Linked DNA regions of Homo sapiens: all the other regions are linked to region 4. Evidence: fine-mapped expression QTL. A gene starts in region 4. Each other region holds a variant in brackets. All regions are shown on one strand. Distances are between the middles of the regions.

Region 1 (4,000 bases), 65 kb after region 4:
AGCACCTGCCGGGACCTGCTTTGTAAATTAGCAGACAGCATTGTGCCTATTTTATGGCTGAGGCTAAGAGGGTGAACTCGAGGTGAGACCACAGTCCCGAGGCAGGGCAGCTCCCTCAAGAGTCTAGCAGCCTCCCAAGTGCCTTGTGACAGGCAAAAGACTTTGCAAACTCTGTGCCTCCCGAGTGGGTGAGTAAAACAGGATCACCAAGGTGAAGGTGCAGCGTGGAAATTCTTATGACATCACATTGGGGGAAAACCAAAGCAAGCAGGCTACAGATTTATTTTTGTGGAAGATACTTTTTGGGTTATACTGTAAGTTGAAAGCAAAAAGGATTGGGGTAGTGACAAGTGGCCTGCTCGGGGAAGAATGGGAAAGTAAGGCTCCCAGGCCCTGAAGGCTTGACTTTTCTAAATAAAGATATAATTGGCATGGCGTTAGTGAACTGTGGCAGCACACGGAAGACGGCTGAGGAGGGCAAAACCATGGGAGGGGGGCCCCAATGCAGGTCCCGTCCAGATGATTCGTTCCTATACTAATGTAATGTGAGGCAGAATTTTCTAATTTTTGTCCAAGGCGTCTCTGTTCCTGGGTGGACAGAGCAAGTTCCCCTGCAGGCAATTTTATTTTGCAAAGAATCTTTTGAGCAGCAAATGTCGGATGAGAAGGCAGCACTGTCAGGGGAAGGGAGGAGCTGTTGTGGCTTGATGAATGCCTCCTCCTTGAGAACTTGAGATCTGCAGAGTTATGGAAAACTGTGCCCATTTGCACCAGAGGATCAGGGCCTTCTGAGAGGAAAAAGACTAAGACCTGAGCCCCAGTTCCCTGTGATTTGAAGTTAGCACCAGGGTACGCTAGAGTCCCCCAGCCGAGATGGCCTGGCATTCAAGGCCTCCAAAATGAACCCAGTAGGAGGGAAAAGGGAATTGGGGCTCAACTCCCGGGGAGCTGATCTCAGGACATGACTGAGGCTGCTTTAGGAACAATTATTGAGCACTTCGGGGGGACCTAGGGGTCTGGAGGCATCCCTGTGGCCTGAGCAGCGTTGTGCACCTGCAAGGGGCAGTGTGCAGACTTCCACCAGAGCGTGCGGGACCTGCGTTCCACAGGGCCACCCCGTGGAGGGAACCAGAGCAGCAGGGCTGGTGGCAGGACCCCATGTTCCAGCTCTGTTTACACCAGAAGCTTCCACTGAATGAAATAAGCTGACTGTGGCCACGGGGTGGAGGCCTCCAGAGGGACACACTGGGCTTCCTGCTAGTACAGGGGAGTAGGACCATATTCAGTGTATTCAGTTTCAAGTCAGTAAAGCAAAAACAAAGTGTAATTAATTTTGCCTTTGAAAATCTCTTAAGTTGCCCATAGAGTCCAGGAGGTATAGTTTTGTGTAAGTTCATTCAAGACAGTTTCCCTTCCAGCCTTGGAGTGGGTTGCTGTTTCTTTAAGCAAACACCAGATGAGAGCATCAGCATACACTCAGAGGCCGTGATCTAAAACACCC[A/G]CCCCTCTGCAGGCCCTAGAAACTCTCTGGCTTCAGGGAGGTGCTCACTGTTCAGGAGGTGCCTGGGCACAGCGGCTGGTGGAGGCAATTCAGGCCCTCCTCTCTCGTGGCCCTCACCTGGGGAAGAGCCCTTGGAAGGAGGAGTCTCCTGTCTCATTTAAATGATTTTCTCCCTTTTTCAGAGCACATGTAATTGAATTCACTTAAGTTAAATGCACATATGATGGGACTCCACTATAAGGCGGGGGTGGTGGGAGGGCTGAAATAAACTGAAAACCGCAAACCTGGAGTTACGCCGGGTTATACAGTTAAATAACTAAATGTACCCACCAGCAAGCAGATTTCACCAGTGGGTTCCCTGCATGGTAAGCCCACAGAGAGGCTCTGGCCAGAGCCTGCATATGACTGTCCTTGCTGGCAAGTGTCTTGATCTCTGGGAATGAATAAATCAGTATGTGGCATATTTGATTGCCCCTTGCTAGCATCGGGGGACAGGCCCAACCAGCTCTGGGGCCCAGACAGTTGGGCTTCTGATCCCATCAGCCAAGGACCTCACCTCACATCTGGTGAATTCACCAGTAAGAATAAGAACAAACCTTGTAGAGAAGAAATCACAGTGGCAGAATTAGCAATGTGGAGTGAGAGGATGGTTTCTTCTCTGTTATCCAAAATGTTTGTAATTTGCTTATCTAATTTTTTTTTTTTATGAGATAAGGTCTTGCTTTGTTGCCCAGGCTGGAGTGCAATGGCATGAACATGGCTCACTGCAGGCTCAACCTTCTGGGCTCAAGCGATCCTCCCACCTCAGCCTCCCAAGTAGCCAGGACTACAGGTGCCCACCATCATGCCTGGCTAATTTTAAAAGTTTTTTTTTTTTTTTTTTTGTAGAGATGGGGTCTCACTATGTTGCCAGGGCTTTATCTAATTTTTTAAAATATGAAAACATCTTTAAAGTTCAGCTCCTAACTGTCCTCCAGGGCCCATACAAATGCTGATGGTGAGACTTTCCCTGAACTCTGCTGCCGCTGCCCTCTGCTGCTTCTTATTCATTGAAAATGTATTGATCAGGCACAGGCAGTAGCAGGCCCTGTATGGGGCAGTGAGAAATCAGATGAAAGGGGGAGAGTTATATTCTTCAGAATTATTTTTACAGTAAGGGAGCAGTCCTTATTCAGAAGAAAGTTCTTGATGAACTACTTGGACAGAAGCTGAGCAGTGGCTCCACTCAACCCAAGCCGGCTCCAGGGAGAGAGGTGAGCAGAAGTGACTTCTGAAAGACATCCAGCTGCTCTGGGGACAGAGGAAGAGAGAAGGAAGGTTCCAGGAGAGAGAAGGAGGTGGACAGGCCCTCAGGCCACCCCGATGACCCAAGCCCTGGTATATCCTCCTCCCGCAGTGTGGCAGTGCCTGTGACTTCTATGAGAACACAACAAGGTGGTGGGATGTCTCCCTGTGGTTATGTGGTAGAAGACTTTGACTCAGAAGACTGGTGAGGACCGGGCTTCCTGCTGGCCTTGATGACCTACAGTGCTATGCTGTGAGCTGCCTGTGGAGACAGCTGGGTGGGGAGCTGCAGGCAGCCTCTAGAACCTGAGTGGCTCCACTGCACAGCTGTCAATGCTGGGCCCTCAGGCAGCAGCCATGGGGAATCACTTCTGTCCATGCCTGAGGGAGCATGGAGGCGGATTCTCCCTGGTTGGGCCTCCGGATGAGAACAGAGCCCAGCGGACACCTGGATTGCAGCCTAAGACTCTGAGCAGAGGACTCAGCCAAGCCCGCCCAGACTGCTGGCCCAGGGACTGAGGCAACCATGAAGTGTGTTTATGTCACTAAGTTTGTGATAATTTGTTACACGGCAATGATAACGAATACACACAGACACACACACAGAGAACCAGGAGATAACTGAAGGCACTACTTGAAGCAAGGAATGCTGGTGTGAATGGGAAGCTGATGAAGGCTGCTTGGTTGTAGGAGTGAAGGGCATAGAAAAGCAAGAGGCAGTAAGAATAGGAATTGGGCAGGGTGCGGTGACTCACACCTGTAATCCCAGCACTTTGAGAGGCCAAGGCAGGAGGATGCCTCGAGCCCAGGAATTCAAGGCCAGCCTTGGCAACATAGTGAGAGCCCCATGTCTACCCAAAATTTAAAAAATTAGCTGGGCATGGTGGCGTGTGCCTGTAGTCCCAGCTAATTGGGAGGCTAAGTCGGGAGGATCGATTGAGCCCTGGAGTTGAAAGTTACAGTGAGCTGTGGTCATGCCACTGCACTCCAGCCTGAGGGACAGAGTAAGACCCTGTCTCAATTAAAAACAAAAAAGAATAGGAATTCATGACAGATAAGGAGGCTCTGACTGTCATGGCGCAAGGAATGGCTCTGGGTGCCAGGTGAGTGCATCATGGAGAAGTGGGCAGGACCTGGCCAGGGCCCCTGCGGAGGCCCTGTGGATGTGCAGGTGTGCACGACTCAGGTGAAGCAGGGCATGCTGCATGGTCTGTA
Region 2 (6,030 bases), 26 kb after region 4:
ACCCTCCAAACCACCACAGTCTCTGTCACACCCCCACTACCGCTGCCACGCCCTCTGAATCATGCAGGGAAGGGTCTGCCCCTGCCCTGGCACACACAGGCACCCATTCCCTCCCCCTGCTGACATGTGTATGCGTATGCATACACACCACACACACACACATGCACAAGTCATGTGCGAACAGCCCTCCAAAGCCTATGCCACAGACAGCTCTTGCCCCAGCCAGAATCAGCCATAGCAGCTCGCCGTCTGCCCTGTCCATCTGTCCGTCCGTTCCCTGGAGAAGACACAAGGGTATCCATGCTCTGTGGCCAGGTGCCTGCCACCCTCTGGAACTCACAAAAGCTGGCTTTTATTCCTTTCCCATCCTATGGGGACAGGAGCCTTCAGGACTGCTGGCCTGGCCTGGCCCACCCTGCTCCTCCAGGTGCTGGGCAGTCACTCTGCTAAGAGTCCCTCCCTGCCACGCCCTGGCAGGACACAGGCACTTTTCCAATGGGCAAGCCCAGTGGAGGCAGGATGGGAGAGCCCCCTGGGTGCTGCTGGGGCCTTGGGGCAGGAGTGAAGCAGAGGTGATGGGGCTGGGCTGAGCCAGGGAGGAAGGACCCAGCTGCACCTAGGAGACACCTTTGTTCTTCAGGCCTGTGGGGGAAGTTCCGGGTGCCTTTATTTTTTATTCTTTTCTAAGGAAAAAAATGATAAAAATCTCAAAGCTGATTTTTCTTGTTATAGAAAAACTAATATAAAAGCATTATCCCTATCCCTGCAGCCTGTGGCTATGTCTGTGCTTGCTTCCTGCCAGGTGCTGGCCTGGTGCCGGGTGGAGGGGGCAGGATACAAGCCCCTCAGCGCCCTGGCCAGAACAGCAGACATCAGTGGAAAGTCCAGTTCTCGGGGCCCGCAGAGTAGCTGCACAGGCAGGCATCCTGGGAGAACAGGGCATAGCCTCAGGCGAGGGGGCCTGAGGTGTGTGCAGATGGCCCACTCGGGAATAGTAGGTGAGGCCTGAACCAGCACACGCGGCCTGTGAGCTTGCTGTGCATTCCCAGAGGTGGAGCATCCAAGCAAAGGACCTCATGGGCTTTGGGCCTGTTAAGGGCTCACCTGGAGGGTCATGGGTCACCTTTGCACTGACAGGGTGTTACTAGTGGGTTCTAGAGGAGAGCAGGGGACTGGAGGCAGGCCTGGGAGCTGGAGCAGAGCCGACTTGGGGGCCCAGGTCTCCGCAGACCTTTCCAGGAAAGAGCTAACAGATGCACCCAGTGTGCTTCCCACCCCAGTGGGAGAGCTGCCACCGGGAGGTGGTACCCAGCTCTGAGCTAAGAAGAGCCTCTGATGGGCAGAGCTGCCCCACTGTGGGTTGAGATGCTCGGGAAGTGGTGACCTCCCTGCTGCTGGAGGTGTGTAAGGATGCTCCTGCCAAGTCCACTAAAGAGCAGACTCCTGCCTTGTGCTGGGACAGACTCGATTGCTCAAGGGGTCTTAGAGATGTGACACCTAGAAGGGGCTGCTAAGCTTGTCTGCATGAAGGTGGGATGACCGATTGCATGACATCTGACCTCTCCCAGGTGAGGAGGCCTCAGGGAAGGAAGGATGCTCTCGTGGAGGCCTGCAGCCCCCAGCCCTGCAGTGGGAGGAGGTGTCCTGGGGTCGTGCTCTTCCCAGACTCCTCACACTCCACCCCTGGGAGGAGGGTGGAAGGAGTTCAGGAATGGGGCAGTGGGAGCAGGTGCCCTCTTGACGCTGAGTGACCTGGGGGAGGCCTGTCCCCTCCCTGGGCCTTAGTGTCTTCAAGGGCATCATGGTGCAAGCCCCTCCAGACCCCAGAGCTGTATCTTCTCCCCAAGGCATATCTGGAACAGGCTGTGTTGCCAGGGCCCTTCTGTGTGCCCTGCAGGCCTCCTGGAGGCAGCCTGGGGTGTGAGAATGAGGGAGACCATCTGGAAATGTCCCTGGGCACGCCCCTGTCTAAAGCAAAGCATTCACCACGGGGAGCCAGACTGGGAAGGAAATCTGTTTCTTCTTTGGGGACTGATCTCAAGGCCCTGCCTGCAGAGCAGAGCCTAGACCATGGCAGAGAGGTCTGTCCACACTGGACGATGCCCAGCTGCCCTGTGGTTATTGAGACAGGCTCCTGGGTAGGCTAGCTTATACTCTGTCTTCTGCATGTGACAGCTCAGATAGGACTGTCCTTACTGCAGCCACCAGGACAGGCTTCTCTGCACTCTGGCTGCCCATACAGGCCTGTCCACACACTGGCAGCCTAGACAGACCTGTCTACACTCCAGCCAAATGGACAAGCCTGTTAGATTCTGGCCACCTGCATAGGCCCGCCCATATCCTGGCTGCCCAGACAGGCCCGTCTGCACTCTGGCCGCCTGTATTAATTAGCCCAGTAGCTAATATCATATTTGCTGGCTAGCATAAGGTGTTGAAGCCCACAAGAAGTGAAAAACAAAATACCTTTATTTAGTTAACACTGAATTTGCAAACACAGAAAGGAATAGAAAACCTGACTCCACTTGGACGCACAGGCCTTTGGGGAGTTCTGACACCAGGGCCCCATCGGCAGCTCCACCAGAGCATCCTGGCTGCACCTCCTTCCCGGAGTCCTGGCTTGCCTACCTATTCCATGGGAGGTTGGCCTGGATGTGTCAAGGGGGCCTTTCAGCTCTAGTAAAGACATCTGTCTCCACATCCAAGGAGCTTTGCAAAAGACACGTGGCAGGACAGGAGACTGGACGCACTGTGGCCTGGGGAAGGCAGCGGGGCTTGGCCCTGGGCTGCTCCCCTTGGGGAGAACTGTGTGGCTGAGGCCACCTGTTATGGGGTGGGGCCTGGGCCTGGACACAGCTGCAGGCTGCCCTGTCCTCCAAGAGGAGAGGCGGGGCTTGAAAGATTTGAGTTAGTGTCTTGACCTTAACGTGAGACCTTGGACAAGTGTTTTCAGCTCTCAGAGCCTCAAGTCTGTCATCCAGAAAGTGGGGCCGGATAACCCCTGCCTGCCGCCCTCACCGGGCTCACACCGGGGAAACTGTCACAGCGGGGCCTCAGGCAATGCCGGGCCCATCACTCCCTAGATGGGGCTCCCCCATGCAGCCTTTCCCTTCTCTGAGATACATTTTCCGTCAAGCGGGGTTAATTCCAGCCTCTCAAGGGTGAGAAGAATGTGTGATCCTGGCCCCTGCCGGCTGCTCAGGAGGGTTGGAGAGTCGAGTTCCTGCCTCAGGACCCTGCCCCTGGAGGCCTCGCCTGCCCCTGCAGCTCCGCAGGCTCAGACATTGGTCTCCAGCTCACTGATCTGGATGGTGCAGTGGTTCAGACTCGCAGCGGGCAGCTCCTCATCCTGCTCCACTTGAACGGGGACGTGGTGGGGGCAGGTGGGGCCCAGGGTGAGCTCGGAGGCCTCGGCTACACTCTTCACACAGCCATTCTGCTGGGCTGCCACGATCTCCTGGAGGCTCACTGGCTTGGTCTCGCAGGGCAGCAGTTTCTGGTGAAGGGAAACAGGTCTTTGTAGCAGCAGGAGGGACCAAGGTTAGATACGAGGGAGGACTGAGGGCCAGTGGGGCAGAATGAGCTCAGGGCTAGGAACCACAAGATGGATTTTCCTGCAGACACGCTGTGTGACCTCGGCAGGTCACGGCCTCCCTGGGCTCCTGTTCCCAAGCGTCCTGCCTCCCACTGGAGCTGGCTTAGTAGAGGAGGGGACTTAATCCACAGGGTCCATCTGGGGAATTGGTGGATCCCCTGCCTGACCTCAGCTTCTTCCCCATGATGTGGGGACAGCCTTCTCCATTTGCCTGTAGAAGGAGCCTGAAGCCCACACAGCCTGCACAGACCTACAAATGCTCACATGTTGGCTAAACTGGACAGACCATCCCGACACGAGGGCGGG[G/A]AATTTTATCATATCTTGTTCTACTGTTCCTCCTGTGTCTATATCAGCGCCAGCCACAGCGGGTGCTCAATAAATAGATGTTAGAGGAATCAGTCATTCTGTAACGGATGAGGAGACCGAGGCCCAGAGGCATGGAGGGAGGGATTGGCTGGAGGCTGCCGAGCTGGTTGGTGGAAGATCTGGTGCCCTGCCCACCCTGCGTGGCTCCACCCTCCTGGCAGCCTCTGGATCTCACTGCTCTCACCTCGGTGCCTGTGTCCCGGGCAAAATCCTTCCGACATATATGGGCCATGATCCCCGCTGCCAGCGCATCACCCAGCACGTTAATCATGGTGCGGAAACGGTCCCTGGTGAGCCAAGGTTGGGGGTGAGTGGTGGGCACTTGAAGGGGAGCTGGAAGAGGGCAGTGCTCAACCCAGCACAGTACAGCACGGCCGGTGACCAGCTGTCATGCAAAGCCTGCAGCCAGATGGCTTCCTGGCTCCTCCCAAGCCCACCCTTTGGCATCATTGAAGCAGCTTCTTGGCATGCAGCTGTGGGTTCCACAGGTCCCCATGCTTAGAAGGGTTAGGTTTGGTTTAATCCTCTGCTGTTTCTGTCTTGAAATTCTTTATAGGTTTGTTTTTTGTTTGTTTGTTTGTTTGTTTTTTGAGACAGAGTCTTGCTCTGTCACTCAGGCTGGAGTGCAGTGGCGCCATCTCGGCTTACTGAAACCTCCATCTCCCAGGTTCAGGTAATTCTCGTGCCTCAGCCACCTGAATAGCTGGGATTACAGGCACATGTCACCAGTCCCAGCTAATTTTTTCTTTTCTAATTTTTAGTAGAGATGGGGATTTTACTGTGTTGCCCAGGCTGGGCTCTGGAATTCCTGGGCTCAAGGAATGCTCCTGCCATGGCCTCTCAAAGTTCTGGGACATATAGGCGTGAGTCATCATGCCTGGCCTTTACAGTTTTTGGACTGGGTTCCACATTTTCATTTTTGAACACTGGACCCCACAAATTATGCAGCCAGGCCTGTGCTAATGAGTAGGGCACTCCCACAGTGCCAAGCGGGGCAGTCCCCAGCCTTCTACCCTGGGGAAGGGACTCAGCCGCTCACCCTGATCCCTGCTGACCCTGAAGTCAGCCCCTCCCAGAGGGCTAGAGCTAGAGGCAAAGTCCACTCACAGAGCCCAGTCAACGGCAATGATGAGGGTGATGTCATCGGTGGGCAGTCCCACGGAGGTGAGCACGATGACCATGGTGACGAGGCCGGCCTGGGGGATGCCAGCTGCCCCAATGCTGGCTGCAGTGGCTGTGATACTGCAGGGGGTGGGAAGGGGAAGAGGAGCAGCAGGAGGGGCAGGGTGCATTGTCAGGGTCTGGCTCCAAGGAAGAGGTTGAGTGTCAGGGCCTCTGGGACAGCCATTTGGTGCGGGGGGTGGGTAGGAATGCCACACCAGGGAGCTCTCGGGGTCAAGTCCCTCCTCACAGTCCTGAAGCCCCATGGACCCCCATTCCTGGCCTCAGGAGAATCCCTGGGAACTGTGCAAACACCTGTGTCTGGAGCTGTGCCTCTGTGGGTTCCAGGAAGCTATATTGCTATGGGGCTGCCCAGGGACTCTGACTGACCACCACATGGCTCTGCCTGCCTGCCTCTGGGGCCTGGCCTCCAGGGTCAGACCTGTGTGCTTGGCTGGGCTGTGAGGCCTCCGTCAGCCTCAGCCGCATCCCAGCACCCCTTCGTTGGCTCCTGCCACACGGGCGGCCTCTCCAAGGTCCTGAGTCCTGTCCCTGGCCTCCGCTCGCCCTGTGGCCACCAGCAATGCCCTCCCTCCCGGGCTGTCCTCCAGGCTCGGAGCTCCCAGCCCTGGCCCTCTGCCTGCTGTGCTCCGAGCCCAGGCTCGCTCGCTTCAGATACCCCTCAAGTCTGGGAGCCTGGGAATCCCCAAGGCCCCCAGCCCCCGCCCCATCCACCCAGGTGCAGTGTCAGGGTGCACCTGATGGTGATGATCTGGCCAAAGTCCAGCTCGTAGTTGTTGACCTGGGCGATGAAGATGGCGGCCACAGCCTCGTAGAGCGCAGTGCCGTCCATGTTGATGGTGGCACCCACGGGCAGCACGAAGCGAGCGATGCGCCGGTCGATGTGGTTG
Region 3 (4,000 bases), 71 kb after region 4:
CAGGGTCAGGCCTGACATCTGAATTTTTCAAAGCAGCTCTGGTGATTTTGCTCTGCCCTGAGTAACAACCTCACACCAGAGTGGCTGTTCCTCAAAGGCAGGGACACCCAGCCCTGGGCTGGCCAGGAGCAAGAGCTCAGGGGACAGTGTGGATGGACTCCTGGCCAGGATGGATAATAGGCCAGTTTGAGGCCAAAGGAGGGAGAGTTCAGGAACGAGGGGTTTTAGGACTCAGAAATGCGTCATATCTCCCCCCTGAAGGTTTAATTTTCCCTTCATAGGAAAATGTTAAAGCGGTTCCATTTCTTAGTGACACGGTTGCTCTGCACCAGTCCAAACTCTATAATAAACAAATGAAATGTATGAACACGTCCTGGCTTTTCTCAACTTAATATCACATGCATTTCCAGCCAAGAGAACACTGAGTCTGGTGGAGGGAGACCAGGCATTTGAGAGCCAGAAGGTGGAGAGCTGGACGGGCCTTCGTTGCTGGGTAAAGAAGCCCAGGGTTGGGGGCCTCACCTCAGATCACATGATCGCTTGTGGTGGAGGCAGGTCGAGGACCCTGGCCTCTGACTTCTGAACAGGATTTTTTTGTTTTGAGTGACTTGTCCAAGGCCACACAGCTAATACATAGCAAGGCCAGGCTGTGTGACACCAGGGTCCATACAATGGCCTCTAAGGTGCCTCTGTTCTGAGAGAGGGGCAATGCCCAGGCAGTTAGGACAGTCAGCAGGAAAGGGCAGACAGAACTGCCTGCCAAGGGTCCTGGCTTCCTCCACCAGTGCACTTATTTAGCTGTTCTGTGATTGTCTATTTTCCTGTCAGTCTCCCCAGCAGTCTGTGAACACCACAGGACAGTCTCTCCATCATCTCTGTGTCTGCAGCACCCAGCACAGGGCCAAGTGTCCAGAAAGCACAATGCATGATTGCAGGATCCATTAATTAATTCACTTGACCAGTATTAATGAGCACCTACTATGTGCCTGGCACTTGGCTAGGTGCTGACAACACAGAGTTGAATCTAGGCAGAGTAGCCTCGTTAACTTTGCAAAGCTTACAGCCCAGTGGATAAAGAAACCAGTTAACAAGTGAATGCATATAGAATGACAACATATGATATGTGCTGTGGCCGGGAGGGAACAGGGTACAGTAAGGGAGAGCCAGGGTGGCATGAAGGGGTTGGTGGGGAGGGCCTTCCTAAGAAGATGATGTGCAAGTTGAGATGGAAAAAAAGAGGAAGAAGAAGAGATGTAAGATGTTGGGGAAGCATGTTCCAGAGGAAGGAACAGCACGTGTGGAGGCCCTGAGATGGTAAGGGCTTGGTCTGCTTAGGGAACTTGAGGCTGGTGGGACTGGAGTATGTGACATGGGATGAGGTGGGGTGGGCGAGGCAGATCATGCAGGGCCTCCTAGACCAGGTTAATGGTCTGCAGGTTGATTCTACATGTCATGGAAGCTGTTGAAGGTAAATGAGGGGCAGGGCCCAATCTGCTTTTCTCAAGATCCTTCTGGCCACTGGGTGGAATAGATGGGACGGGGACAAGAAGTGAGGCGAGGAGACCAGTGAGGTGGCGGTGGAGTCTGGACGTGAGAAGAGAGTGCCCGGGCCTGTAGGGTTGGGAGGAAGCTCCATTCTTCGACTGAGTAGGCAGAATCCACTGGAACTGTGGATGGGGCTGTGGGGTTGAGAGAAAGAGGATAGCCAATGACAGGCCCGATGGAAGACCTGGGTGATGGAGCTGCCATTTG[C/T]AGACAAGAAGAAAACAGGAAAAGGAGGCAGTTTTCTGGGTGGAACTTCAAGTTGGTGACATTAAACTTGAAGTGTGGCTGGGCACGGTGGCTCATGCCTATAATTCCCGCACTTTGGGAGGCTGAGGCAGGTGGATTGCTGGAGCTCAGGAGTTTGAGACCAGCCTGGGCAACATGGTGAGACCCCGCCTCTACAAAAAATACAAAAAATAATTAGGTGTGGTGGTGTGTGCCTGTGGTCCCAGCTACTTGGGGGGCTGAGGTAGGAGGATCACTTGAACCCAGGAAGCCGAGGCTGCAGTGAGCTGAGATTGTGCCACTGCACTCTAGCCTGGGCGACAGGGCAAGATCCTATCTCAAACAAAACAAAACTTGAAACGTTTGTGAAACATCCAAGTGGAGATGTCAAATAGGCAGTTGGTTAATGAAGTATGGAGCTCACAGGAGAGGTCTGGGGAGATCTCCATCTGGGGGCATTGGGCTTGTAGGTGGTATGTTAAAGCTATGAAATTAGATGAGAAAAGGCTGGAGAAGCTGAACATTTGGAGGTTGAGTAGAAGGAGAGAGACCAAGATGGAGGGGCAGAAAGCAGGCAAAAAGTTAGAAGAGTGTGAGTCCATAGGGAAGGGCATTTCATGAGGGCAAGAGTAATCAGCTGCACCCATGGCTGTGGAGAGGCCGTGTGGAAGAACTGGACGTGTCGTACAGATTCAGCAACACAGAGGACTGCTGACCCTGACAGATTCACAGGCTCAGTGAATGACTCCAAAGATGCAGAAAGAGGAGACAGTCACTAGAGTGAGTTGAGGAGTCAGGGAAGGCTTCCTGAGGGAGGTAGCATTTCAGCAGAGCCTTGAAGGCTGAGTCCTGAGAAATTTAAATGCTGCTTGCAAAGGCCTCTGTGCAGAAAATACAAAGCGCCCTTGGCCTGGGGATTATCTCCACTTCACAAAGGGGGGAGGTCCAAGGAGCTGGCTCACTGCTCAGCAGCAGGGAGGCTGGGAGGCAGAACGCATGCAGAGGCTCATCCTCTTTCCTCTCTGCAGAGGAGTCCTGGAAGATGAAGATTTCTCATGGCCTCAGAGCAAAAGGCTCTTAGACACCACCTGGAGCAGCCACTCATTATACATCTGGAATACTCAAGACCTGGACAGGGATAGGGTTGCTCAAGTTCACCTAGCACATCAGTGAAAGGGACCAAGTGATCTCCCATGATTTCCATGGCCCGCACCCTACTGGGTAAGGTCTGAATTCTTCAGCCTGGTGTTCAAGGTCGTTCATGATTGGGCAAGAGCTCACCGTCCAAATTCATCTCGCACCATCCCGCCCTTGTCCCCAAGTCCCAACCTCCTGAGTGCTCAGCATACACAACATATAGTCTTCATGACAACCCTTCGAAGTAGGTGTTGTTATTCCCATTTTACAGATGAGGAAACTGAGGCGTAGAGAGGTGAGGTAATATGTCCAAGGTTACACAGCCAAGCCAGGCTGTGATCACTGGAGTATCCTCAGAGTTAGTTCTCTTTTCCCCAGGCCTTGCTGCATTACCATGAACAGCCCCTCCTCTGGGAAGCCAACCCTCAACTCCCTGGCCTTGAGCTATCTTGGAGTCGGGTCATATCCGTTGATTCCAAATCACCTGTTCTATCCACTAAAAATTCTACTGGATGGAACCAACAACTGGGGCCACTGAATGACTCAGAAGCCGGCAGCCCACGGCACTGCCCATAAAGGCCCCACGGTCACACTCATCCCAGGGCCTGTGGTTGCTCTCCAGCCACCCACAGCAGGAGCAGGGCAGCAACAGAAGCCATCCTCTACCCTCCTGGTTCCGGACCACCTGGTCAAACCCCCGCTCTCACCTGGAGACCACCAGTGGCAGGATCATCATCTTCAGCATCCTCATCAGGAGCTCTCCAGGGAACTGGAAGTAACTAATTTCCTGAAAACACAGTAAGAACTGGGGTTATAGCAAGAGATGCAGACTGCACAGTGGTTCCGTTCTTCACAGTCTTTGAAGCACTATCCCATCTGACTCCCCTGTCTAGCACATGGCAGCAGAGACCATGGAGAAAGAACTGGCTTTGGAGCCACAGAACTGGGTTCCAATCCTGGTAAACACCCCGCCTCCACCAATCCCCCACAAGCTGTGTGGCCTTAAGCATCTTCTGTGACCACTCTGAGTTTTGTATTTTTCTCATCTGTAACATGAGGGTAATAACTACAGTAGTCCCTACTTATTCTCAGC
Region 4 (6,254 bases):
GAGCACCCCTTTTCCAAAATAATGGGGCAATAATACCATCATGTTTGCTGTGAAGATCAAGTGAAACAGTGTGTGGGAAAGTGTGTACCAGTTTTAGTTATTCATGTTTGTTTTATTTTCTATTGTTGATGAAACAAATGATCACAAAGTAGTGATCATAAATTTATTATCTAACGGTTCTGTAGCCTAGAAGTCTGGTTGAGTTTGACTGGTTTCTTTGCTCTGGGTCTCACAAGGCTGAAGTCAAAGTATTGCTGCCCTGGGCTCCTATCTAGAGGCTCCAGGGGAGAAGGTGGCTCTGCTCCCACATTCATTCAGATGCTGGCAGAATTCTGTTTCATGCCGCTGTAGGACTGAAGTCCCTGTACCATTCCTGGCAGCCTACGGGTGTTTCACTTTCTAGAGGCTGCCTTATTCCCTAGCTTATGACCCTCTTCATCTTTAAAGCTAGTCAAGTCCTTCTGATGTTTCAAATCTCTCTGACCTCCTCTTCTGCTTCATCTTCTCTCTCTCCAGCTAGAGAAAGTTCTCTGTTTTTTAGGGCTCATGTGATTAGGCCCACCAGGGTAATCCAGAATATGCTCCCTATTTTGAAGTCCGTAACCTTAGTTACATCTGCAAAGTCACTTTCATCATGTAACATATCCAAAGGTTTTAGGGATTAAGGTGTGGATATCTTTGGGGCGGGGTTGGGGGGTATTCTGCCTATCACAGTGGTATTTTAGGGTGAGAGAGGAGAGCTTGCAGAACATGAGATTCTTGCCCTGGAGGACTCACAATCCAGTGGGAGAAAGAGGAAAAACAGCAAGAAAGTTCCAATAATAAAGAGTCTGTATGAGATGTTATAGCAGCCCAGGAGACTCCTTGTGTACTTGACTTGGACTGAAGATTTTTCATTATTCTCTTCTTGTTCCCTGGAGAGTCTTGCCTTCATCAAGGTCCTTCAGATGGAATTCATATACCCCAAACACCACCATGTGATTTGATTCCTTAAATGTCCAGAAAATCAAGCTGCTGCCATAGCTATTTGGGACTCTACTGCTTAATAAGATCTCAGCCCTCAGCTCAAAGTAGGAGGAATTATTTTCTTCTTTGATGATGAGGCATAACAAGAGCTCATTGTTCCTCATCTCCTGTTTCTCATCATCAAACCCCACTGAGAGCCTTCTTGTTCTTTACTCCTAGCTCTCTCTACCGTATCAATGTATGTCTTTCCTCCCTCCTCTTTGGAGTGTTCTTGTTTCTTATTGTTTTGAATTAGAAGGCACTTTCCCTGGGCAGTACAGAGGTTACTGTTTAATTCTTGCCACTTGTCATTTCTATTTTAATAATGTTTCCTGGCTATTTGGTCAGGTCTGGGTGATAGTTTTGCAGTAATAGCTACCATTTACTGAGCACTTACCATGTGACAGGTACTATGTAAAGTTCTGTACTTGCATTCTCCAATTTAGACATACTGTGAAGTGTAGGTACTATTTTTATATTCATTTGAACCTAGCTAGGATTTGAACCCAGCTCCAAGCTTAAAGCTTGTACTTGACACTATGTACTTCAGTAATATCAAACAGGAGCTGAAATTGAGGGGCAGCATGAAGGAATTGAAGCAGCACAAGTAGATTCAGGAAACCTCAATTTCAAACTCTGCCTTTACAATCCTTCTGAAAGAGGATTTGCTTCTAGAGCACCAAGGTTGCCTCCATTTTTCCACCAGAGACACTCAAAGTGATTCCTCCTGCAGCTTGTATCTATAGTAGCAGCCAACCACAAAGCACACATGGGCATTTGCTCAGCATTCCATAGAAAAGCCTATTTCTCTGGGAGGTGGTGGGTACTGGGTGTGTGGTGTGCCGTGTAGCGGGCCCCTGAAACACCTTGGCCTTAGCAGTTATAAGTATAGAGAATATCTTCCCCACAGGGCTAGGATGATTAAGATATTTTAAGGATTTAGGATGGTGCCTGTCATTTATTAGGCACTCAATATGTGCTGGCTCTCATTGTCCTAAAAGATTTTTAGTCCATGAGTATTCAAGCTAGTAGAATCCTGTCCTTTTAGCTCTACTTGAATCTAGGCTCAATGTTCAGGAGAAGACACGAGATGCATCTCTGTTGGTCCAGGTCCAATGCTGTGAATCACACCAACTCTTGTGAGTTTGAGCTCCAAAAGGACTGGAATTTGAGGCCAAAGAAGGCAAAATATTTTCCCTCCCCATTCTTGCTAAGTTCTTGGGTTGTTGGTGTAATGGAAACAGACAGTCCTGGGTTCAAATCTAGACTCTACATTTGCCTGCTCAAGTTACCTGCCTGTTTCCATCATGGGAAGAACTTGGGCTGTGGAGAAGGGTAAACCTGGGGTCAAAACCCCAGCTCTGCCAGTGAATGGGCATTTTACTCAGTCAAGTATCCTTTCTGAGGCCATCTCTTTTCTATAAAGTGGGGCAGCAGCAGTTCTTCCTTTGCGGAGTTGTGAAGCAGAGCATAATGCATATGGTATAACCTCACGGGGGCGGCAGCCAGTGAAAAGTCTGGAGCTGCTTTACAGGGGCCATTCATTCATTCATTCATTCAGGTTAAGGTTGAGCAAGGGGTCCCACGTGTGACTTATGCATCCTTCTCCCTCTTCAGTGGGAGGACAGCCAGGTGAGGCAGCTGTGGATGCCCTGCCCACAGGCCAGAGCAGGTAAGGGGAGGAGGCTTGCTACACAGTGGAGGTGCCAAGTACCACCTAAGCCCAGCCGCATTGCCTGTTCCACCGCCGAAGCCCCTGGCGCCAAACAGTGTTGCTTCAGCTGGTAGTAGTTAATACTCCTTTACTTGGAAACATTTTCAGTTCCTGGGAGCAATATGGTGGTGTGAGGTCTCACTGTTCACCCGCCCTGTTTCTCTGTGACTGGGATCTGCATGTCCCCGACTCCGGCCCAATTTACCATTCTTCAAGGCTCACCAGGCTGTGGGCCCAGGGCCAACAGGGATGGGAGTGGAGGGTGGGGTGGAGCGTGGGGAACTTTTCCGGGAAGAGGCCCAGCAGGGTCTTGGCTGGCGGCCCCATTAGCCACGGCCCAGGACCCCAGGGTGGGAGAGTGAACGGAAAGGTACTCGTGCCTGGAGCGGTTGCAACATCCTCTGTAATGAGGAAGATACAGCTCAGAGGCACTGGGTCGAAGGACCCCTCTCCCCAGCCCTCCTTTCAGGTGTCGGGGCCTAAAGGGGGTCCAGTTCCAGTGCGGAAGGCTGGGAACTAGGAAGCGTCGCGGACCAGACAGCCCGCCTTCCCGGTCTCCCGGGTGGGGGTTCGGGGGGCGTGGTGCGGCGGCCGGGGCTGAGAGGGGTCGGTGCGGCGGCTCTGCCTCCCCGGGAAGTGGGAACCGGCCAAGTCCCGAGCGGGGAGGGGCAGGCTTTCTCCTGCCCGCGCCTGGGGGGACCCTACGCCTGTGTCCGAAGGAGGCCGGCGTCCAGCAGATGCTCCCGGGGCGGGTGGGGAGTGGGGGAAGGGGGCGGGAGAGAGGCGGGGAGGAGAAAACCCACAACAAAACTTGCGTCGCGGAGAGCGCCCAGCTTGACTTGAATGGAAGGAGCCCGAGCCCGCGGAGCGCAGCTGAGACTGGGGGAGCGCGTTCGGCCTGTGGGGCGCCGCTCGGCGCCGGGGCGCAGCAGGTACAGGGCGCTGGCAGCCGGGGTGGGCCGAGGGGCCGGGGGCTGAGCCCGGGCAGCGCACTCAGACGTCCCCGCCTCTCCGGATGGCTCCAGCAGCTGCCTGGGGCGGGCCCGCCGCATCTCACCCCCTCTGTAGGACCCTGCACCCAGGGCACGGCCGGAGATCTCCTCCTCTGGAGTGCGACCCCTGCGCAGTCAGGACCCAGGCAGGGGCCTTCTCCTCTCTGAGCAGAGGCTGGTCCCCGTCCCCAGGCCCCTCCCGCTGCGCACATCTGGAAAGAATCTGAGGGCGGTTGGGGGCGGGGGCTGGAGTGGGAGGACGCCGGCGGGCGACAGGGAATGTGGGGGGCAGGTGGAACTGCGTAGGGGCGGGGACCCCTGTCATGAGAGCCTGGGCCCGAAGTATCCCCGCGTCTTTCCACGTCAACTCATCAGGCCCCCTAGCGACTCCAACCTCCACCTCTTTATAGATAGAGAAACTGAGGCCCAGAGAGGGGCAGAGGTCTGGCCCCAGGGCGCGTCGGACGCCGGGTGGGTCCCCTCCGGGGCTCGGCTTCCCCGGCCACTGTGCCGCCCCAGCTTAGTGCCAACCACTAGTTGAGCTAAAGGTCTCAGCTGGCGGTCTGGAGTCCGTCTATCTGTCTACGCGGCTGCTTCCCAGCCGGGACAGCTGGAGGGAGGAAGGGGTGGGGGTCCGCGAAGCGCGAGGAGCGAGATCCGCGCCTTCCTGCGAATGAGGCAGAAGCCCCAGGTTCCAGGTCCCCGAGCCACAGCCCGGCCTGGGGCGGGGGACGAGATCTTGGCGTTGGAATACCTGACGCTCCGTCAGGTGGAAGAGGAGGTGGTGGCGGGGCTGCGAGGCTCCTGGCAGCCTCGGGGGCTGGGGCTAGGAGAGGCAGCCGCAGCCTTTTGGAGAGGAGCAGGCGCGGCAGCAAGGGGCGAGCACCCCGGCCCCGGTGCGCGCGGCACTGACTGAGCTGGTCCGGGAGGCGCGGAGGATGCTCACCCAGCGCTTGGAGTGAATTACTGACCTGTCTGCCCTTCGATTACCGGCTGGCCAGGGAAGGGGAAGCTGTGGTCTGCCCTGCTCCACGAGGCGCCACTGGTGTGAACCGGGAGAGCCCCTGGGTGGTCCCGTCCCCTATCCCTCCTTTATATAGAAACCTTCCACACTGGGAAGGCAGCGGCGAGGCAGGAGGGCTCATGGTGAGCAAGGAGGCCGGCTGATCTGCAGGCGCACAGCATTCCGAGGTAGGTCACTCAGAAGAGCCCGTGGACTGCCCTGGGAAAGACCAGGGGGGACTGCTCTGGGGGTTCTGCTCCCTCATGTCCACTCTTAGGGCCCAAGACCCAGTCTACTCTAGCCTAGAGTGCAAGTTAAGAAATGTCAGAGTCACACGACTGTTTTCATGTCATCTGTGGGAGCACACTTTATCCCTTCTGTCTGAGTCTAGGATAGGGGATTACTAATGGTGGCACTTTTAGGCTTGGTGTAGTCATACATGCGAGTGCTGGCCGTGTCCTGCTTGGAACCCTTAATGAGTCCCTATCACCAACACTAGCATGGCGGTGGAGGCCCTTGGCCACCCAGGCCTCCCGCCCTGTTGACCCTTCCTTAAACACACGTCCCTCTCCTCTAGCCCCACCCCTACCTTTTGATCACACTCTACCTCTGCCTGGAGGGCTGTTTCTCCCACTCCGTCCACTTGGAGAACTCCCGCTCAGTCTTCAAGGCCAACTCAAGGCTCTGGGCAGGAGTCAGAAGACCCACATTTTACTCTTGGCCTTGGCTTTAACACACTAATTTGCAAACTGGGGGAGTCAGAGCAGATCATACTGCAGATCTTTAGATCTTTTCCAACTCTGCCTTTCACAAAGTCGTTCATTCAGCAAACATTTCCCCAGCACCCCCACTCCATGCTTGGGGAGACAGGGGAGGCCCAGCTGAGACTTGAAGGATAAAGCCAGCCAAGGTTGCTGTGGAAGCACCCAGAAACACCCTAACCCAGCCAAGGGGGCAGGAGAGGCTTCCCTGAGCAGGGGCATTTCAGCAGGAGCTTTCTAGGGATGGGCAGCAATGCCAGCCCTTTGTGCTTGAGCTCCAAATCTGCAGAATAGAAAGACGAACATGTAGTCCCAGGATTTCTATTAGAGTCAATAAGATGCAGCTGTTTGGGGCCCAGCACAGAGCAGGTGGTCAGTTGATTTGTACTGACTTTGAGTGGAGAAGGAAGGTAGTGCTGAGGGCTGAGGATCCGCCTCTTGATTTGGGGCTCCCTTTCCCTTCCTTCTTCTAGTCCTACCTTAACCTCACACTTTGGGCCTTGAGGTTTGGTTCCCTGGTAGTGGTCAGGGGAGACAGTGGGTCCCACTTACTTTCTCAGTAACAGTAACCCCTGGTATGTCACACCTATTTGATGCCAGCGGTGACAGGCTGAGACTGCTATTTCATTTAATTCTCACAAGTAGCTCCCAACTCCATTTCTTAGACTAGTTAACAGAGGCTCGGAGCAGTAAAGTGGCTCATCCAGGCTTACACAGCAGTCAGAATTGGAACCCATGCCCTTCTGTCTCTAAAGCTCTCCATATGAGAAACACTCACT
Region 5 (4,000 bases), 46 kb after region 4:
GGCCTTGGGGTCATCTGGACATCTCCTTTGGTGGTCGGGCCTTCCTCAGGCCAGCCTCCTCTGCAGTCTCACCCACTACATCATGGACACTCCACAGCGCCAGCACCTGCCGCCCCCAGACTGTGCCACATACTTTCCAGAGCCAGGCATTTGTCTACACTGTTCCCTCTGCCCGGAATGCCCTGCCTGCCTCTTGGTCTGGTGAACTACTCAAATCTACCACAGATCAAGCACCTCTTCCTCTGTCCAGCCCTCCCTGACTGCCCCACGAGACCCTGCGGCCCTTCTGTGTGTAGGTCGCTGCTGCTCCGCCACACCACCGTGCGGTCACTGGCTCACCTGTCTGCCTCCCCCATATAGTGGCCGCCTTGCAGGTGGGACTTGGTTGTTCATGTCCTATCTGTGGGGCCTAACACGGGACCTCGCACATAGGTGGGCTCATTATTCTTAGTAACATATTTTATTATAAAGCTAAAGGTGGAGGAGTCTTTCCTACTAGATAAAAAACGGTGGCTCACGCCTGTAATCCCAGCACTTTGGGAGGCCAAGGCGGGCGGATCACGAGGTCGGAGATCGAGTCCACGGTGAAACCCCGTCTCTACTAAAAATACAAAAAATTAGCTGGGCACGGTGGCGGGTGCCTGTAGTCCCAGCTACTCAGGAGGCTGAGGCAGGAGAATGGCGTGAACCCGGCGGAGCTTGCAGTGAGCCGAGATCGCGCCACTGCACCCCAGCCTGGGCGGCAGAGCAAGACACCGTCTCAAAAAAAAAAAAAAAGTAACTGTCAAACTGTGATACTGACACAGCAGTCGATGGAAAAGTCCATGTAAGCTGTAGCCTAGAAACAGAAACTAGCACCTCTAAGTGTTTCGTACTTGATAAAAGTTGTTTCACAAATCAGTGAGGAAACGAAGGATTCATTATAGAATGCTGTGCAGCTGACCAACGGTTTGGAAAAAATAGATGTTAGATGCTTACACCAAAATAAATTCCAAAAGGTTTAAAGAAATAAATAAGTCTTTGAAAAATGAAACCAGCTGGGCACAGTAGTTCATGCCTGTAATCCCAGCACTTTGGGAGGCCAAGGTGGGCACATCACCTGAGGTCAGGAGTTTGAGACCAGCCTGGCCAACATGGCGAAACCCCGTCTCTACTAAAAAATACAAAAATTAGCTGAGTGTGGTGGTGCTCGCCTGTAGTCCCAGCTACTCAGGAGGCTGAGGCTGCAGAATTGCTTGAACCCGGGAGGCGGAGGTTGCAGGGAGCTGAGATCGCACCACTGCACTCCAGCCTGGGGACAGAGTGAGACTCTGACTAAAAAAAAAAAAAAAAAAAAAAAAAAGGCAAAGAAACCATAAAAAGCTAGAAGAAATATAGGTTGAGATCTTATCATGTCTCAGTATAGGAAATGACTCTCTAAGAACAAAATGAGCAATAAATCAATAGATTTTACTACATGAAAATAAAGAAATCCCTAAGCGCAACATAGCATCCTGGATTGGATCCTGCAACAGAGAAAAAGGACATTCGTGGAAAAACTGATGGAATCCAAACGAGATCCGTAACTTAGTTAATAGTGTTGTACCAATTTAATTTCTCAGTTTTGACTAACGTACCCTAGTTATGTAAACCGCTAACATCAGGGGAGGCCAGGTGAAGGGTGTGTGGGATCTCTCTGTACTGTCTACAACTTTTCCGTAAACCTAAAACTATGCTAAAATGGAAAGCTGAATGCTTGAGAAGCTAAGACAGATTGCAATACAAATAAAACCACAAAGCAAGTGACGAGCTGGAGAGACTGCGTGACCAAGCACTACCATCCTAAATCTACTAAGAGCTTTTACAAATCTTGGCCTGGTTTCTACCTTCACTATCTCCTCTCATCAGAATATCAGCTCCCTGGAGGGCGGAAGCTCTGTGTTTGTTCACTGTTGTGTCTCCAGCCCCGGGAAGAGTTCCCGGCACATACCAAGCACTCAGTAAATATTTGCTGCGTAAACCAATAGACCACAAAAACCCGACAGGAAAACGATGGAAAGATACTACCAGGCAATTCGTGTTACAAAAGAAGAAAAGTCAGTGGCCAAAAATGCTTTTTAAAATGTTTAGTTTCATCAACAAATTCAAGATATTTCCACCTGTCAAACTGACAAAGTATTTTTCAAATGACAGTGCACAATGTGGGAGGTTTGGTGAGATGGGCACCCTCACATGGTCCTGGCAGCAACCTTTCTCTAAAAGCATTTGTATCTTTGTCTTCACAGTCCCCTTCTAGGAGTGTGTCTTGTGAGAAATGCCAACTCTGAGGTGAGCATCTGGTAAGAGGCTTCC[G/A]TTGCATGCCTGCTCTTCCTCCAACCTGCCGCCCCACACTCACACTGCCTCCACCTGGGTCGCCTCCCACTCACTCTTGTCCTCGGTAACCCTCTTCCCCTCTTTCAAGACTCAGTTTACACACACGGAGAACATTTGGAAGCTCGTAAGAAGCCAAATGGAACTTATACCTATATAGACATTTCTTTACAACTTCCTTTACAATTACAATCATTTTAAATGTGGGCCTTGGCAGGGACAGCTAGTTGCCTATGCAGTCTCCATTCTCCCGTCCTTCCTTAACAGAAGTCCTATTATGTTGTGGGGACCAAATGGGACCTGCCATCAAGCTCTGATTCTCTTGCTAATGGGGTGGCCATCGAGAGGTGAGTGGAAGTCGTTGGGTGGTGATTCCTGGAAAACTCTTAAGGAGGTGCCCATTCAGCCAGGACCCTTTGGTCCGTTCCTCCAACTTTCTTCTTTCTGCCTGGAACATGGGGATAATAGCTAGAGCTTGAGCAACCTTCATGGACCATGAGACTCAGATGAAAGCCAGGTGCTAAGCATGGCACGGCACACAGGAGGGCAGGGCCTGGGACCCTGGTGACTGCCAGCTGCCCACCTCCCACTTCTGGACTGTTCTTCAGGAACAAATGCAAACCTTACCTTACTTAAGCCTCTGCTGATCTGGCAGCCAAAAGCAAGTCCTGACTCGTGTGTGCTCATACTAATAACCAATGAATTTATCCTGCAGATTTTAATCAAGAATTATACCTTTGATTATTAAATGGGGAAATGTACATTTTCTTTTGGCTTTGAGCCTTCACGGGAAGACTTTTCTGCTTGTCCCATGAGGTCCGTGCTCCTGGTGGCAGCTACATAAAACACAGAACGTGCCTGGGGACGTTAATAGCCATGCCTATCAAATACCCACACACTCTGCCCTGTGCCTCCCTGCACGTTTTCTAGGCAGAGCCAGAGTCCACCTCTCAGCTCCCCTCTTCACCTGCTACTTGCAAATTCTCACCGAGATGCTTCCAAACCCACCCCTAATAACATGTCCCCAAACCAAGCCCTAAAGGTGGGAATTGTTCCTTCCCAAGCACAGCTCCTGGAAGCTTCCTCCAATCCCTGAGAGGGTAGTTGGGAGCTATAAATAGAGCCCAGTCATTACTTAATCTCTGTGGTGTTTTAATAAGATTCGAAAAAAAAGAGAAGGGGCCAGACCTGATTAGTGCTCTGCTTGGGTTTCTGTTTTGCGTGCTGCACTGTGAGCAGGCGCCAGCCTTCTGGAGCGGCCCCCCGGAGCCCTGGAAAATGAATTCCTGTCTTGGAGGGTCATCCAGGGACATGGCCTGTTGTGTTCCTCTGGAGTCATCTTTGAGACAAGGATGCAGATCTTTGCCCCTGTGGTGTGCCTTATGTCCCCACGCAGTGGGCTCCCACTTTCCATTTGTCCCACTTGCCCTGGTTCTCAGTTCTCTTCCTGGTCATCAGTGTTTTTGTTCAGTCTTCAGCACCTGGTAGGCACCTGTTCTGGGCCAGGGCAAGGGTCAGGAGGCCCCTGGTCCCTCACTGCCAGTGTCCCCATCTCCTTCACAGCCTCTCAGAGCATCAGGAGTGGCTGTCAGTGCACCCACTTGTCCGTCTGTCCTAAGATGGTGGGCAGCCCTGGGGTGGGGGCGTGAGG

Evidence for each region. PIP is the estimated chance that this variant, and not a neighbour inherited with it, causes the effect.
Region 1: its variant is fine-mapped to the expression of PODN in whole blood (TOPMed, PIP above 0.99). The same link has a PIP of 0.9 or more in blood mononuclear cells.
Region 2: its variant is fine-mapped to the expression of PODN in whole blood (TOPMed, PIP above 0.99).
Region 3: its variant is fine-mapped to the expression of PODN in whole blood (TOPMed, PIP above 0.99). The same link has a PIP of 0.9 or more in blood mononuclear cells.
Region 5: its variant is fine-mapped to the expression of PODN in whole blood (INTERVAL, PIP above 0.99).

Annotation. Positions count from the first base shown.
Region 1 is chr1:53,124,673-53,128,672 of GRCh38, forward strand. All of the region lies in intron 2 of SLC1A7 (solute carrier family 1 member 7), which reads right to left. Among named protein-coding and RNA genes, the nearest start is that of SLC1A7, 16 kb to the right of the region's middle. RefSeq lists an enhancer at 1-711. The variant A/G (reference allele first, on the strand shown) is at 1,502.
Region 2 is chr1:53,084,735-53,090,764 of GRCh38, forward strand. It overlaps SLC1A7 (solute carrier family 1 member 7), which reads right to left. Exons shown (of 11, transcript NM_006671.6): 8 at 5,878-6,030; 9 at 5,066-5,200; 10 at 4,143-4,245; 11 at 2,449-3,493. The coding sequence ends at 3,275. It overlaps PODN (podocan), which reads left to right. Exons shown (of 11, transcript NM_153703.5): 11 at 1-760. Among named protein-coding and RNA genes, the nearest start is that of PODN, 26 kb to the left of the region's middle. The variant G/A (reference allele first, on the strand shown) is at 3,899.
Region 3 is chr1:53,130,736-53,134,735 of GRCh38, forward strand. SLC1A7 (solute carrier family 1 member 7) reads right to left here. Exons shown (of 11, transcript NM_006671.6): 2 at 3,615-3,694. Among named protein-coding and RNA genes, the nearest start is that of SLC1A7, 9.9 kb to the right of the region's middle. The variant C/T (reference allele first, on the strand shown) is at 1,753.
Region 4 is chr1:53,058,658-53,064,911 of GRCh38, forward strand. It overlaps PODN (podocan), which reads left to right and starts at 3,556. Exons shown (of 11, transcript NM_153703.5): 1 at 3,556-3,651. RefSeq lists a silencer at 3,534-3,721.
Region 5 is chr1:53,105,838-53,109,837 of GRCh38, forward strand. The region is part of intron 3 of SLC1A7 (solute carrier family 1 member 7); the gene reads right to left. Among named protein-coding and RNA genes, the nearest start is that of SLC1A7, 35 kb to the right of the region's middle. RefSeq lists enhancers at 1-111, 112-611 and a silencer at 7-214. The variant G/A (reference allele first, on the strand shown) is at 2,332.